Linked DNA regions of Homo sapiens: region 2 is linked to region 1. The links come from fine-mapping of genetic effects on gene expression. Tissue or cell type: tibial artery. Region 1 holds a variant in brackets; the other region holds the start of a gene. All regions are shown on one strand. Distances are between the middles of the regions.

Region 1 (8,000 bases):
TCACTTGAGCCCAGGAGTTCAAGATTGCAGTGAGCTATGATCATACCATTGCACTCCAGCCTAGGAAACAGAGTGAGATCCTGTCTTTAAAAAAAAAGTAAGAAAGAAAAAAGGGGTAACTTGGAAGTTTGTAATGACAGCCTGTTAATAATACATGGACTTGTGTTTGAATTTTTACTACTTGCATTGTCTGGGAAAACCTAAGCCAAGCAATTAGAGGGGTATTAGCTGGTAATGCTGTGGAAAATCTGCCATAAACAAACACACATATTGACCACAGAAACAAAACCTCAACCCATGAGCCTCAGGATTCCCCAATGTAAAGATGAGCTAATGAAAGAGCAAAATCCAAAATTACAAAGGCCATAAAGAAAATGCCACAACGAACAAGACTCTATGGAAAACATTAACAGCAATAACAACCAAAAAATAACAGAATAAGATCTCCAAGGATTTCAGATTGGAATTATCAGATACAAAATATACATACTTAAAAAAGTAAAGAGGAAATCTAAATTTTAAAAGGAGTTAAGAGGCCAGGCACGGCGGCTCACACCTGTAAGCCTAGCACTTTGGGTGACTGAGGTGGGCAGATTGCCTGAGCTCAGAAGTTCCAGATCACCCTGGGGGCAACATGGTGAAACCCTGTATCCACTAAAATATGAAAATTTAGCCGGGCTTGGTGGTGCACTCCTGTAATCCCAGCTACTCGGGAGACTGTGGCAGGAGAATTGCTTGAACCCGGGAGGTGGAGGTTGCAGTGAGCTGAGATTGCACCACTGCACTCCAACCTGGGCCACAGAGCCAGACTCTGCCTCAAAATAAATAAATTAATTAATAAAATAAAAAACAAAAAGGAGTAAGAGACCATCAAAAATAACCAGGGAGATTTGAAAAAGCACACAAAGAAGGCTTGTAGATGAAATATTATCATTTAAAAAATAAAGTGGCCAGGCACAGTGGCTCACGCCTGTAATCCCAGCACTTTGGGAGGCCAAGGCAGGTGGATCACCTGAAGTCAGAAGTTCAAGACCAGCCTGGCCAACATAGTGACACCCTGTCTCTACTAAAAATACACAAAAATTAGCCAGGCATGGTGGCAGGTGCCTGTAATCCCAGCTACTCGGGAGGCTGAGGCAGGAGAATCGCTTGAACCTGGGAGGTGGAGGTTGCGATAAGCTGAGATCGCACCACTGCACTCTAGCCTGAGCGACAGAGCGAGACTCTGACTCTGTCTCCAGAAAACAAAAACAAAAACAAAAAACACACAACATATAGCAATCTTTGTAATATACTGGCAAAATAAAACATTCTGTATGTAATCAACAAGGAATGCTTTCCCACCATTATTTTTACTCCAAGTTGTACTGAAGTCCAGTTATGCTGATTAAGAAGAAAAAAAAGGATATGGAATAGAAAGGGAGAAATTGGGCTGGGTGCAGCGGCTCACACCTATAATCCCAGCACTTTGGGAGGCCGAGGCAGGAGGATGTCTTGAGCCCAGGTATTTGAGACCGGCCTGGGCAACATGGAGAAACCCCAATTCTACAAAAATTACAAAATTAGCTGAGTGTGGCGGCACACACTTGTGGTCCTAGCTATTTGGCAGGCTGAGATGGAAGGATCACCTGAGCCTGGGGGGTCGAGGCTGCAGTGAGCCATGACTGCACCACTGCACTCTAGCCTGGATGACAGAGTGAAACCCTGTCTCAGAAAAAAAAAAAAAAAAAAAAAGACCCAAATTCCTTTTATTTCTTTACTATATCCCTTCTGACAAGAGAATCTACAGACATTATCAGAAGTAATATGAGAATTTGGCAAGGTTGCAGAATCAACATATAAAAGTCAATTTCATTCATATAAATTAGCAATAAAGTGAAAATGGAATCTATCTAACTGCATTTAAAAAGCAACCCCAAACACAAAAGTACCCAACAGTAACTACAATGAAATATGCACAAAATCTTTAGAAGAACATTAATAAACTTAACCCAAAGACATGGAAGACCACGGAAAGGTATCATGTTCAGACAGAAACAGCTCTCCCCAAATTGATCGACAGTCAATGTAATTCCAATTCCCAAGAGTTTGGAGTTTAAAGGGAAAGCAAAGGGCTGAGAACAGACACTTTTGAAAAAGGACAAAGTATGAGAGTCTGCACTACCACCTATCAAAATTGCTAAAAATTTGTAAAACATGAGTGTGATATTGGTGTAGGAAGAGATAAATATACCAAGGGAACAGAAGAAAGTGTCCAGAAATAAACCCATATACAACATGGATATTTTAGATATACAAGGTAGAATTGCAGGTCATTGTGGAAGAAAGGACTATTAAATAAATGGTGGTAGGCTGACTGGTTATCCACACAGACAAAAAGAGTCTCAAAGGGATCCCTACTTCACACCCTACACAAAAATTAATTCCAAGTGGATTAAATACCTAAATGTGCAAAACAAACTTTAAATCTTTGTAAAGAAAATAGAGAAGATTAGACTATAACCTTATATAGGAAATAATTTCTTAAAATATAAAAAGTACAAATCATAAAAGTACTTTAAGTTCATTATGCTGAAATTATCAACCTCAAAAAAGTAAAAGGACAAGTCATAGATCCATAGGAGATTAAGTAAAAATATGTGCAAGTGATAAAGAACATCTAGAACATATAAACAACCTTTAGAAATCAGTAAAAGAAATGATTCAATTTTTTAAGTGGGTAAAAGATAAAAATAGGAAATTTACAAAAGAAATATGGTCAGTAAATATATTTGTAATCAGGGTAACATGAAGTATAATTAAAAGGAGACACCATTTTATACCCATCTAATTGGCAAATTTTACTTATTTTTCTTTTCTCAAGACAAGGTCTTACATGTCTCATGTTGCCAGCAGAGTCACATGCGGCACAAAAGCAAAGCTGGAATGCAGTGGTGCAATCATAGCTCACTGTAGCCTCTGAGGCCCAGGCTCAAGCGATTCTTCAACCTCATCCTCCCAAATAGCTGGGACCACAGGTTCATGCCACCATGCCCAGCTAACTTAAAGTTATTTTTAGAGATGGGGTCTTGCTATGTTTCCCAGGTTGGTTTGGAACTCCTGGGCTCAAGCCACTCTCCTGCCTCAGCCTCCCAAAGTGTTGAGATTACAGGCGTGAGACACTGTGCCAGGCCAGCAAAATTTAGTTTGCCAATACTGTGTGCTGGTGATGATGTGAAGCAACAGGAATATAAACTGCTTGTTGGTAGCACAATCACTTTAAGGAACAATCTGCTAATATCTAACTACATTGAAGATACTCTTAGACAGAAAGTCCATCAAGTTGTAAAACCTTCACACATATATAGTAGAGGACCTGTACAATACTATTTATATGGCATTTCTTTTAACATAGAAAAAAAAGCTGAAACATCCTGTAGGTCTCTTAACAGGAAAATAGATAAATTTTGGTACAGAGACTAACTGAGAGAGCAGCAGAAATGAATGTTATAAAGCTATACCTATCATGATAAACAAGTCTCACTGAGCAAAAGAAAAAAAAATTACAAAGAGTGCTTTCACTGTATCATTTATATAAAGTTCTGGAACATGTCAAAGTGCTATAAATTTTTAGGGATAAATATATATATGTAGCAAAAGTATAGAGAGACGAATGGGAATGAAAGCCGCAGCATGGAGGCTGCCTGTAACGAGGAGGGGGAGAGCATGTTTTATTCAAGCATGAATATTTACTGAACTATGCTTTTACATTTGTATATTTCTTAAGTATTACCTAATAAATAACTAACTAAATAAAAATAAGTAAATAAAATAAAAGTACCTGCTATGGAGAGTTTAAAGCTCTTTAAATATTAGATAAATATAAATAAATACAATAGGCCAGGCATGGTGGCTCACAGTGGCTCACGCTTGTAATCCTAGCACTTTGGAAGGCTGAGGCTGGTGGATCACTTGAGCTCAGGAGTACAAGACCAGCCTGGGCAACACAGTGAAACCCTGTCTTTACCAAAATACAAAAAATTAGCCAGGTGTGGCAGCATGCGTCTGTAGTTCCAGCTACTCAGGAGGCTGGGGCAGAAGAATAGCTTGAACCTGGGAGGTGGAGGTTGCAGTGAGCTGAGATCATGCCACTGCACTCCAGGCTGGGTGACAGAGTGAGACTCAGTCTCCTAAATGAAT[C/A]AATACAATAAAGAAAAGGTAAAAAACAGAATACCATGAAAACAAATTAGTAATTTTGGTAAGCTACATGTCATAACTGAGAGCTTGCCTGAAACCATCATCAAGATGCTGTGTTTCTTTTACCTGTCTCTTGTAGGTTTCAAGTTGACTTCGCGCTGCGTTGGCCTTTCTTAACTCTTCCTCTAGACTGACAGTATTCTGCATATACATGGTATTCTTCTCTTCTAAGAGTTTAACCTGCCGCCTTAAATCACCAAGGTCTTCTAGCTTCTTTTTATAAGATTCTACTTGACCTTCTAGTTTAGATACTTTATCAGAAGAATGTCTAGAATTAGATGGGAAATTAAAAAAATCAGAAACACATCCACACTTGTAAAGTTGTTTCAGTGTTAAGAAGGATTGCCAGGAAACACACATCTAATGAAATAAGACAAAAGTGATTCCAGGTTAATTTTCTGCACAGGTTAACAAATATGACCTAAGTTACAACTAAATGTTTAATGGAGAATAATAATTTAAGGAAACCAAGCAGGAGAGGGCAGCCAGCAGAGTCACATGTGGCACAAAAGAAAAGTAAGTTTAACAGTGTCCGAATAATTTGGCAATTATCAGTGACCACCAGAATAGCAGCTTCAGTGGGGTAGTGTGGGCAGATAGTGGGGTTGAGGAGAGAATGTCAATTTTACCTTATGTAATCTAAGTTTGGTTCTAGTGGGAAGGAGAGAGTAATAACTCCCTCTCTTTTTAAGATTAAAGAGACCTAAATGCGCGTGTGCATGTGTATGAAGGAGAGAGATTCAAAAGGCAAAAGAAATGAGGATTGATGTAACACAGTCCCCGCGTAGGCCAGAAAGGTAGAGGTCCAGAACACTGAAGAAGGAATTAGCCCTGAACAGGAGGAAGAATAACAGGTCTACACTCACTAAAGAAAGGGTGGGTGGGAACCCAGGGAAGTTTAGAGGTTTTGGAGACAAAAGACATGGAGAGTTCAGCAGTTCACGGCCTCTTTCTTCGCTGCTATAGGAGACAAGGTCATCTATTGAGACTAAGTCATGGGAGGTGTGTGTGGAGGGCAGCCGGGGAGTAGAATCCTGAGGAATCAGAATGGCTATGAGTGAGACAATGAGCAAGGGGAGGGCGGGCCATTGGGAAGAACCCAGCTCAGAAGGAAGCCACCAATTGGCAGGAGCACAAAACTATCAATTATGCATTTCCCCTGTTCTCAGTATTCAAAGAGCAAAAGTGGAAAATGTAGATGGTTGAGATAATCAACAGAGGATAGGAGACTGTACAAGCAGAGGGGTGAAAAAATGAGGTGACAGGGAGTGAGGCACCTCATGAGAGAACTGAAGGGGTAATAACAAGGCCCAGCAAGAAAATGAGGCCTTGCGGGCGTGGCGGAAGAACAGCTCCAGAGCTGTACAAGTAAGAAGTGATGGTCACAATTTCTATTTTACAAACACTTGTGTATCGCTTAATTGCCAGACACTGTTGCAAGTGTTTACAAATATAAATTCACTCAACTCCTCATATAAACCTGAGGTAGGCATGTGTATTGTTTCCATTTTGCAGATGAGAAAACAGCCATACAGAGGTTGCATAAGCAGTAGACCCGGGATCCCAGCCCAGGTAGCCTGGCTCTTAAGTTTGCTAGATCCTCAGAAACCCTAGAGTTTCTAACACCAGAGCCAAACTGTGCTGGGCGGTGAAGGTGAGGTTTTTACCTCAGCACGTCGATCTCATCTTTCAGAGACTGAGCTTCATCTGCCAAAGTGGTCAGTTCATCATTCTGTTGCCGAAGTTCAGAGATCTCCTTTTCTAACTCTTCACAACGTATTCGATAATCATCTTTGGCTGCTTCTAGTCTGTAACCGATATAAAATAGACCAAGAAAGCACTATTTACTGCCTCCTCATTCTCCTTAGAACAGTAAAAGAAAGATATAAAGCATGAGAATAAAGCCTTCTTGAGTATGTCTCCCATGTTAGTGGCCACAAGCTGCATTCTCAAGCACTAACTGTCATAAAAATGAACTCCACTGTCCCAAGTCTTGGGAACGGTGACAACTGGTTACTATTTCCCTACCAGAAAGCAAGACATCATGCAACATTTTTCTGAAATATTGCAGATACAATTTAAGGGCTTTTTTTATTATAAAATTAACACATATGGTCTGGCACAGTGGATTACAGTAATAAACCCATTATGTTAATAAAAACAACATACTCTTTATGAAAAATAACTATTTTCTAAAACAAAAAAAGTGAGAAGAGTGGCACTGTTTTATATTTTTGTGATTCTATTATCTGTTTTAATAGAAGACAGCTGGGTTCTCATATTTGTTTCTACATTCATCTGTTGGTGACATGTTGTTTTTTGGCTGAAGCATATGAAGAAAATCCAGCCTTGCAGACACATAGTCGGGAAAGAGAGGGTCTTGCAGATTCTCCAAAATGGTTATCAGAGGACCTCCAGGAGCCTCGACCATTCTTTGAACTGCTGACGTGGACCAAAGGGAATGGACTGTTTCTAAGGTTTCTAAGGAGCCTAAGAAAAGTTTATTACTTTTTCCTGTTAAGGTAAAAGAAAAAAAAAAATCCAGAAACATTTCACTGAGGAATAACAAGAATAGTTATGTTACCACACTCAGTTACTCAGTAAAGTAAAAATCTAATTGATGTTTAATTTCTGTTTTAACACTAGAAATCTATGGCTAGGGAAGAAACAAGTGATGACGCACTTTTTAGTAAACCGTAACAAAATATTTTCATCATACTCTTGTCTTTCGATTTTGTGCTTCCGTCTTATCTTGCAGGACATATTTTCCTTTTTCTTCTTTTTCCTTTCACCACCCAAAGGTCAAAGGGCCCTTCTTCCTTCCTTTTGGGCTTTTCTTCCCACAGAAGATGTCTGGAAGATTGTTCCTTTAAATCTCGCCTGTCCTTTTAAATCAGCTCACCCCTTTAAATAAGTCTATCTCTATAAACACACACATACACACACACACACGTATATAGATTTCTATAAGTCTATAAATGCATCTGTCTTTTAAAAATCCCTGCCTGTAACTTTTCATGTCATCTGGCCCTTCCCGAAGATGTGCTTATTTTGAAATCCCTAATCTGTGGTTTATGGTCTGCTCTGACCATTACTTTTCCAAACCAAAGTCATTTCAGATTTTCAGTGAAATTTAATCTTTCTGGTGATCATGTCAACTCGCCTTCAGGCCCCTTCACAAATGTTCTTCCTCGGTCTTTCTTGAAAGTTTCCTCAGTCGCCTTTGTTTCCCACAGAGGGGCAGGTGTGGGGTACTCCCTCTCACTCAGGTATCCTATAGTTGCGGCATTCTGCCTTCAAACAATAAGGAGGGTGGCGCTCTGATAGAACACTTCCTAGACGTGAAGTAGTTTCATGTTGTGTGAGGAGATTCTGAGTTGTTTATTTGGAGCCTCAATGGACTGCAGTTTCCCAGAAGTCCTAACATTATATTTTTTTTTTCTTTTTTTTTTTTGAGACAAAGTCGCGTTCTGTTGCCCAGGCTGGGGTGCAGTGGCACGATCTCGGCTCACCGAAATCTCCACACCCCCAGTTCACGCGATTCTCATTTCTCAGCCTCCCGAGTAGCTAGGATTACAGGCACCTGCCATCATGCCTGGCTAATTTTTGTATTTTTAGTAGAGATGGGGTTTCCTCATGTTAGCCAAGCTGATTTTGAATCCCCGACCTCAAGTGATCAGCCCGCCTCAGCCTCCCAAAGTGCTGGGATTCCAGGCATGGACCAATGTGCCTGGCCAATATACTCTTAACTTTAAATGACAGCT
Region 2 (8,142 bases), 170 kb before region 1:
GAACCCAGGAGGCGGAGCTTGCAGTGAGCTGAGTTCGCACCACTGCACTCCAGCCTGGGCGACAGAGCGAGACTCTGTCTCAAAAAAAAAAAAAAGAAAGAAAGAAATAGCTCCTGGTGTCTCCATTTTGGGATGAGGCATCTGAGGCCTGAAGAGGTCAAGCAGCTTGCCCAAAGTCACCTACTAGCAGCCAGGATTTAAGCTGAGGTCAGTCTAACTGTGCACATAACGGCTAACCAGTCTCCTGAGCCTCAACAGATCCCTCCCTATAAGCCCAGCCAGATTAGCCTTTCCATGTTTCCCTCATATGTTAGCCTGGTGGATAGAAAATGGCACGTCCTAATTATTTTAGTTTTGAATTTGTGATTAACAAGTTTGAACATGTTTTCCAAATGTTTACCATCAGTATGTGACTTTCATATTAATTCCTGAATCATTTATTTATTTAACCACCTTTATTTAATCCCTGACACCTTCTGAGGTATTTGCATAACTTCTCTACATTAAAGACAAAAATATTAAATCCTTTGTCAATTTGTCATCGTTTTAAAATAGTTCTTTTTCATTTCCCTTCTTCAGTTTTAATGGCTTCCATTTTCACATTTCTAGTCACTCTCTGTAGACTTTTTCCTACACTTGATCATACCCAAGAGACCATGAAGCCATGAGCTTTTCCTTCGTAATTTCTCCACACATCATCATCCCTTCGTAGATGGAATAAGTACTGTGTGTACTCATGTTTCTCTAAGCCTTTGGTGGTGGGCGGAATAAGGTACTTGTTTTATACTTAGATTATCCACACGAATTTTAGGCTGAAAGCTCTTCATTGTCATTGTTACTAACTATGCTATTTGGGAATGTGCAGAGGGGCTCAGTCTTCATTGAATGTCAAAATTACCTGAGGAAGCTCTAAAAAAACTACAAAAGTTACCAATGCCCTGGCCCCATTCCAGACCAATTAAATCAGAATCTCTGCCCAATCAGCATGATTTTTTTAATTTCCCACAAAAAACAACGAACCTCCCAAAGGGATTCGAGTGTGCAGCCGAGGGTGAAGACCACAGCTAGGGAACCACAGCTAGAGACTGTCAGAGTAACGCCAGCGGATTTTGACACCTTTTTTTTTCACTTTGCATTATTTGAATGTGGTTTTTAAAAATAATAATAACAGTCTGTATCACTTACAGACACGACCAAAGGACCCAATTACTAAGCCATCAAATAAGTCATCAAATATGACCTCGAAACTGAGCTTGATGTTCAGCTTCAAGAAAAAGCTGTCACCTTCCCACACAGCAGCTGACCTAAGAAATTCCAGGGCAATACCCCCAGAGCGTTACAGACAAAAGAACAATTATTTCCTTCTCTCTCCTCTGGTCTACCTCGTCTTGGTGGGCAAATTACCAAATAAAGTCACCTTCCAATGGTGCGGGGATAAATGTGCTGCTTGTGTATTACACCTTTATTTCCTTTCCAAATATTTAATTTCTGGTCTAGCTCTCTGCTCGTGAGTTATCTTTGCTGGGCATATTTTTAAAGACATAGTCTACTTTTTTTTTTCTTCAAGCAAATGCTGAATTTTCAAAAAGAAGGAAGATGATGACGTTTTTAGTAGGAAAGCTGTGCGGCCCAAACATGGGCTCCAGGTGACAGGGAAAGCCTTGCGGTCCCAACGCGGCTTCCCCTCACTACGTGTGATTACTATTTACAAACCACCTCTCTCTAAAAGTAAGTGCCCTTTGATAAGCTAATACTGGCGCTAAAATGCAAAGAGTGTTCGGCGGGATCAGTCCCTGACAAATTGTGATCAGGCAGATTACATAACCTCCCCGGGGTCCTTGCAATTTTAAAGGAGGGGAGCGCAGGAGATGAAGGTTGGGTGGATCAAGGATCGCACAAAATGTAATCCTCTGAGCCGCTTTTCCAAAATTCACAACGCCTTTCTCCTCCAGCTTCTGCTTGGAGAGGAGGGGTCGTTTGAACTCCATACACAGACACTAAAACTTCGTATTCTGACCAAGAAAAGGGCGCGAGAGGGGAAAGACAGGTGACTCCCACCGTCCCTCCTACCCAAAGGGGTTTGCGATGCTTGCCCGACCCCTCTGGGAGGGGCGTGTGCGAAGGACCTAGGGCCTGGGGCTCCCCGGTGCAGGGGTCTAGATGGAGACCTGGAATCTGTATTTGTCACCGTTTTCCCCACCGAGTTCGGAGAGCAAGCCAGTTGTGCAATCACGGTATGAGCTGAGCGCCTCTTAAGCCAGCGCACCGGACAAACGCCCGGGGTCCGGGGCCCGGGGCAAAAGCGCCCAGCCCGGCCCCTCCCAGGCGGCGGCGGCGGCGGCGGCGGCTTCCCAGTCACCCTGGAGGGAAAACGCGCCGAGGGGAGACGCGCGGAGGGCTCGCCCGGGACCGGGCTGCAGGCCGCGCCCCCACCGCCTTCTCCGCGGTTCCTCACCCGCCGCACATCCACGCAGGTTCAACCCCAGCGCGGGGCGAACGCGCGTCCCGGCCCCAGGCTTCCCACCCGCTGAAGCCAATGGGTCGCACGGCTCCGGCGCCACGTCCTCGGGGGCGAGGCCCTCAGGGAAGGGACCCTGCTCTAAGTCCCTCCGAACAGTGGACTGGGTGCAGGGGGAGTCCGAGCCCCCCCGATCCTCGGCTGGCCCGCCTCCTGGCTGCCAGTTTGTGGGGTCCCGGCGTCCCGATCCGCGGCCTCTGTTTAGACGGAAGGCGCCAGGACGCAGGCTCCGCTGGGGTGGGCGCCGCCTGGGCGCCCAGGTTCCACTCCGCCGCGGTCCGAACCGCCCCCTCCCCCGCCTCCGCGGGGCCCGGCCGCAGCACCCCGAAGTCCGGCCTCCGGTCTGGGGCGCGGGACCGCGAAGTCGCAGCAACAGCCCAGGCCACGGGGGCGGTTCCGGCCCGGCCTAGCGCTCGGCGCCGCGCACGGAGATAGGGGCGGCGCCGCGGAGAGGAGACGCTGCGCTCGTAGCCGGCCGGGCGGCGGTAGGAGGTGTGCACTCACCTCGTGGCGGCGCGGCCTGGGCATCGCGCCCCGAAGAGCCGCCGGGGGCCAGCAGCGCGGCGCTCAGCACGGACGCGGCCAGCAGCAGCGCGGCCAGCGCCCTGCCCGCCCCGCTCATGCCCGCCGCCCGCTCGGCCGCCCTTGCCTGCCCGCTGCGCCCCGCCCTGCGCTGCTCCGCCGCGGACGCCCGCGCGCCCGTCATCGCCCCCTCCGCTGCCGTCACCGCCGCCTGAGTCACCGCGGGAGGCGGAGGCGCCCGGGAGCCGCGGGCGGGGGAACCTAGGGGCTGGGCCGGGCCATGCTAGGCCCTGCCTTGAGGGAGCTGGCCAGGAAAGAAGCCGAGGCTCTGCGCCCCTGCGTTGGGAGTGTTTGTCTTCGGGAGGAAAAACAGCCGGAAGAGAGGCCCCTGCAGGCCAGGAGCCTTCTTCCCTCGCCCCACCTTCTCCAGCCGCATTCTGCCAAACTCCCGCCCCCGCCGGCCACCCTCCGCACGGGTGTTAGAGCCCTCGGTCCCTGTTTTGGAAAACGCCTCAATAAGCAAGACTGCAAAGTCCCTGCCCCCAAGGCGTTTATTACCCAGAGGGAGAGGCACGACTTAGAAGCCACCAAGCGGCCCCACCTCTTGAAAGAGCCCCCGGCCAGGCTGACGAAGTGGAAGGGAGCAGGTCGAGGAGTGTGCACACCCATTCTTGGCTGTATGCCGGGAGACACTATCGCAGGTATAAGGGACAGGTACAGTAATACCTATAGCAGAGGTGCTTGTAATTGCAAAACCTTGTCAACAAGCTGAATGTCCGCCAGCGAGAAAACAAACTGCCCCACAGCAGGGGAAGTGCTCTACAGCTTCCCGCATCCACATGGATAAATCTCAAAACACAAGGCTGGGGAAAATGCAAATTGCAGAATGCCTTTTTAATATATAAAGCAAAACAATAATGTATGTTGTTTAGGGACATCCATATATGTAATAAAAATACAAAGGCACACATGAAAATGTTGCGGGACTTTTCCTTAGTTCAGCTAAAGACGGTGGAGGTCCTTGTCACACGCCAGGAAAGATTAGGCTCGCAGACAATTTGAAGGGTAAGGCAGGGTTTTATTGGGTGTAAAGGAAGAAAAAGGGGAACAGGGACTCAGCAGAGCCAGAGTTCTCCTAGTTGTAGGCTTCCCACCTCACAGATTAAATCCCAGGTTCTCCCGAGGAAGAGGAGGGCCAGGCTCCTCCCAGCTGCAAACTGAGGAGCGAACTTCTGTGGCTCCACCCCAGAGCAGTGCACAGGCCAGTTGGAGTTTTACCAGGGAACCCTTCCCATCTGGCTCATTCCTCGCTCTAAAGAAGTCTATCTAACTGCCACTAGGATAAGAATAGGGACAAAGACAGATCTTAACTGCTTCCTGCTGATAGGGGGCACTGTTTCGGGAAAATGGCAATCAGATCTCCCTCAGAGGCCTATCTAAGGGTGCCCAGCAGAAGGGGCCATGGTCCGAGCTTCCAGTAGCATGACCGTTTGATGTCCTGAAGGCAAGAAGAGACAAACTGGGTTATTAAACACATATGGCCGGGCACAGTGGCTCACGCCTGTAATCCCAGCACTTTGGGAGGCCAAGGCAGGTGGATCACGAGGTCAAGAAATCGAGACCATCCTGGCCAACATGGTGAAACCCTGTCACTACTAAAAATACAAAAAATTAGCCGGGCGTCATGGCAAGTACCTGTAGTCCCAGCTACTTGGGAGGCTGAGGCAGGAGAATCACTTGAATCCGGGAGGCAGAGTTTGCAGTGAGCCAAGATTATGCCACTGCACTCCAGCCTGGCAGGTCAGGAGTTCAAGACCAGCCTGGCCAACATGGTGAAACCCTGTCTCTACTAAAAATACAAAAATTAGCCAGCAGTGGTGGTGCCTGCCTGTACTCCCAGCTACTTAGGAGGTTGAGGCAGGAGAATCGTTTGAACGGAGGTTGCAGTGAGCCAAGACCACATCACTGCACTCCAGCCTGGGCGACAGAGTGAGACCCTGTCTCAAAAAAAAAAAGAAAAGAAAAGAAACAAGGGGAGGGATAAGGACAGCTCAAAAATCCTGAGGCTTTTTACCAATTTGTACACGGAGAAGGGGGCCAAAAGTCCGAATGGTAAACAACTTTACCCTTTTGCTGGCATGTTGGGCTTCTGGGTTCCCTTCCCCTGAAACCAATCCTAAGCCAGCCAGTTTAAGGTTTAGGAAATTAACTCTTTCCAGTTTGGAAAATGCATCTGAGGGGAGTGTCCCATAGTATGGAGACACAATTAGGATTGTCATTGTGAACCGAGGAGGAGAAAGGAAAAAAGAAGGCATTTTTTCAAAGGAATCCGAAGGGTTCCAGATGCATTTGAAAGTGGTGCAGACTGAAGATAAATGGCTACCCACATAGAAAGAGGGGAGCAGGCATCCCTGGTTCTTTTCCTAGCAAATACCTGGGGTACGTGAGGGATAGAAGGAATAGCGTCCTCTTCCATCCTTGCATCCCCATGCAACCTTCGAAAGTGCTACCATGGGTGCCAAAATGGCTTGCATCCATGAAGCAGGGGTCTAGAGGGTGGGAATTATCTCCTCTACCCATGAATGCCCTATCACCCCTGCTGTCAGTAGTCTTGGAGTTCCCTAGACCTCACTTATGCTCAGGGGTTGAGGGGTTGCATGGACTCCTTCTCGTAAGCCAAATGCTAAGGAAAAACTGTGGAACTGAGTCCTCCAACAAGGGAGAGAAAAGGATGTCTTGTGACACACCCAGATAACTGGTGGCTACAGTTATGTTTGGTAGGATTTGGGTGCATGGTGCTTGGCTTTGGTTAGCTCCCTTGGTCTTACTTTCCCAAAAGGAAACCTCTGGATGATGGGCACCCTATTTATTCCCATTGCCTAGCAGAATTTGCAGGATAATTGCTCATAACTAGAATACTAATCCAGATTTTTTTACATTACCCATCCCTCTTGTTCTTTCTGAGCTGCAGCTGGAGATTGCTGGTTGGTTCACAAGCAGGGTCAGTCTAAAAATGCAGGCAAAAATTTAAAAACAACTGAGTTTAGAATTGAATGACAAATTATGGTAAGTTTTGGAACATAATTTTTCTCCAGGCCTCGTTTTTGTTAAAAAAAAAAAAAAGAAAAGAAAGAAAAGAAAAGAAATTATGATAGGACTCAGTTGTTTGCAAAATAGACTTCAGTCTTATACTTGGCCTGATTATTTACATAAAGTGCAGCAAGAATAATTATTTCTACAAAGGCCTTTTGGACTGGCTTTGATGGAACTCTGTTCCACAAGGAATCTCAGATAAGATAAAGCCAAGCCCAGCCATGAACTGGGCTAATCCTCTCCTCTTAAGTTCCCATGATACACCTTGGGTTGGGTGATCCTCTCCTCTTAAGGTCCCAGGATAAACTTGGAGCTCCTGGACCTGTTAGCAAGTGACATTCTTTACTGACCACAGGTCAGGAACCCTGTACAGGGACTGTGTAGACAAGAGTATGAGGCCAACTTCCCCACTGGGCTTTTATTGGCCCTGCAAGTCGAGATTGATTCTTTAAACAGAAGCATAGCCTTCCAGTGAAAGCCTCGGGAAAATAACCAGTTTTTCCAATTGCGTCTTGTTAACAAAAGATAAATGGATTCCTATCACACCGATCCAGACAACTATATTGCCACAAGTTAAAAATACTCACAGATAGTTTCCAGATTCTAGAGGAACCAGGCCGGGCGCAGTGGCTCACAGCTAATCCCAATACTTTGGAAGGCCAAGGCAGGCAGATCACTTGAGGTCAGGAGTTCGAGACCAGGCTGGACAACATAGTGAAACCCCATCTCTACTAAAAATACAAAAACTACCTGGGCATGGTGGCCCGCGCCTGTAGTCCCAGCTACTCAGGAGGCTGTGGCAGGAGAATCGCTTGAGCCAGGGAAGCGGAGGTTGCAGTGGGCCAAGATCCCTCCACTGTAGTCCAGCCTGGGCGAAAGAGTAACAGTCTGTCCACAAAAAAAAAGGAACCAGGCAAAGAGAAACAAGCATGCTCCAAATCTTGTCCACAGGAGTATACCTCAGTCAATTATTAAAGACCATAAATAGTTTAAAATAAGTTTCCCTGACTCTGAAAAACAAAACAAGGATCAACAATATTCCCAGCAAAAGTCAAAAAGTTTGCTTCAGCTTTGAGTTCAGTCCATTTAGTTCTTGTTTTGCTTGATATTCGTGAACACTTCAGCTCTTTATGAATCCTGTACATTTGCCTTTATTCCAATGTGACAATCTCCAAAGTTATCAGAAACCTGTATTTGAGAGTACCTGCCAGAGTCCTATTGCTTATTATAAACCATCTTTTGAAAATGATTAAAACAAGACAACAATTGTCTGTGACTAGCCAAATGTCCAGGTTAGTTGCAGTTAGAAACACAATTGACAAAGAAGTTTGGCTATCTCTGTGGTTTACAATAACTTAACAACCTTAATTATGGTTGATAGCATATACTTAGACATTAGAGTTTTAGAAATCCCATATAATTTTGGAACATACATTAGCATTATTCACAAAAATATAACCTAAAGAAAACTGAACATCATTTTGGCAATCCCATGTACCTAAACATGTCAAATGATCCTGTTTACCTATTTCTTGGATATTTCAGGGGCACTCCAAACGGTCCAAAAAGCCAAACATCAGGAAAGACAATTTTGAAACTGAAGTTTGATTTGGGAAGGCTGTTAAATATGTTCGAGGTTTAAAGCACTTGATGTTATGAAACAGAATTCCAGATTACCATAAGTTATTTATTTTGCCAAAATGATGACTCAGAAATTTTAAAGAAGCAAAAATCTTTTATAACCCCTTACAAATTTTGCTGAAGAGCAGATCAGTGCCTTAAGAATACCTTGTTGTGCTTTTATTTCAATGCTCAATTTACAGAAAAATCATATAATACCCTTTGAAATTTAGTCAATATGTTCACATAGAAAACCCCTTTGCAAGATTAATTTCCACAATGCTTCCACCACTTGTTTGAACCTGCAACTTCATCCTAATTTAAAACAATCCTTTAACCCTAGGCAAAAATTTACATTTCCATGCCTTCTTATAACCTTTTACAAAAAA

Alleles and levels. Positions count from the first base shown, and alleles are read on the strand shown. Sizes are in standard deviations (SD) of each study's normalised expression.
In carriers of allele C in region 1, the expression in tibial artery of the gene that starts at base 3,173 in region 2 tends to be lower than with A alone (small effect, 0.28 SD a copy in GTEx).

The links. PIP is the estimated chance that this variant, and not a neighbour inherited with it, causes the effect.
Region 2: HGSNAT starts here. The variant in region 1 is fine-mapped to the expression of HGSNAT in tibial artery (GTEx, PIP 0.98). The same link has a PIP of 0.9 or more in thyroid.

The regions. Positions count from the first base shown.
Region 1 is chr8:42,964,517-42,972,516 of GRCh38, reverse strand. It overlaps HOOK3 (hook microtubule tethering protein 3), which reads right to left. Exons shown (of 22, transcript NM_032410.4): 10 at 5,904-6,044; 11 at 4,303-4,504. Among named protein-coding and RNA genes, the nearest start is that of HOOK3, 72 kb to the right of the region's middle. The variant C/A (reference allele first, on the strand shown) is at 4,180.
Region 2 is chr8:43,135,495-43,143,636 of GRCh38, reverse strand. It overlaps HGSNAT (heparan-alpha-glucosaminide N-acetyltransferase), which reads right to left and starts at 3,173. Exons shown (of 18, transcript NM_152419.3): 1 at 3,023-3,173. The coding sequence starts at 3,140. RefSeq lists silencers at 2,194-2,573, 2,584-3,373 and an enhancer at 4,217-4,511.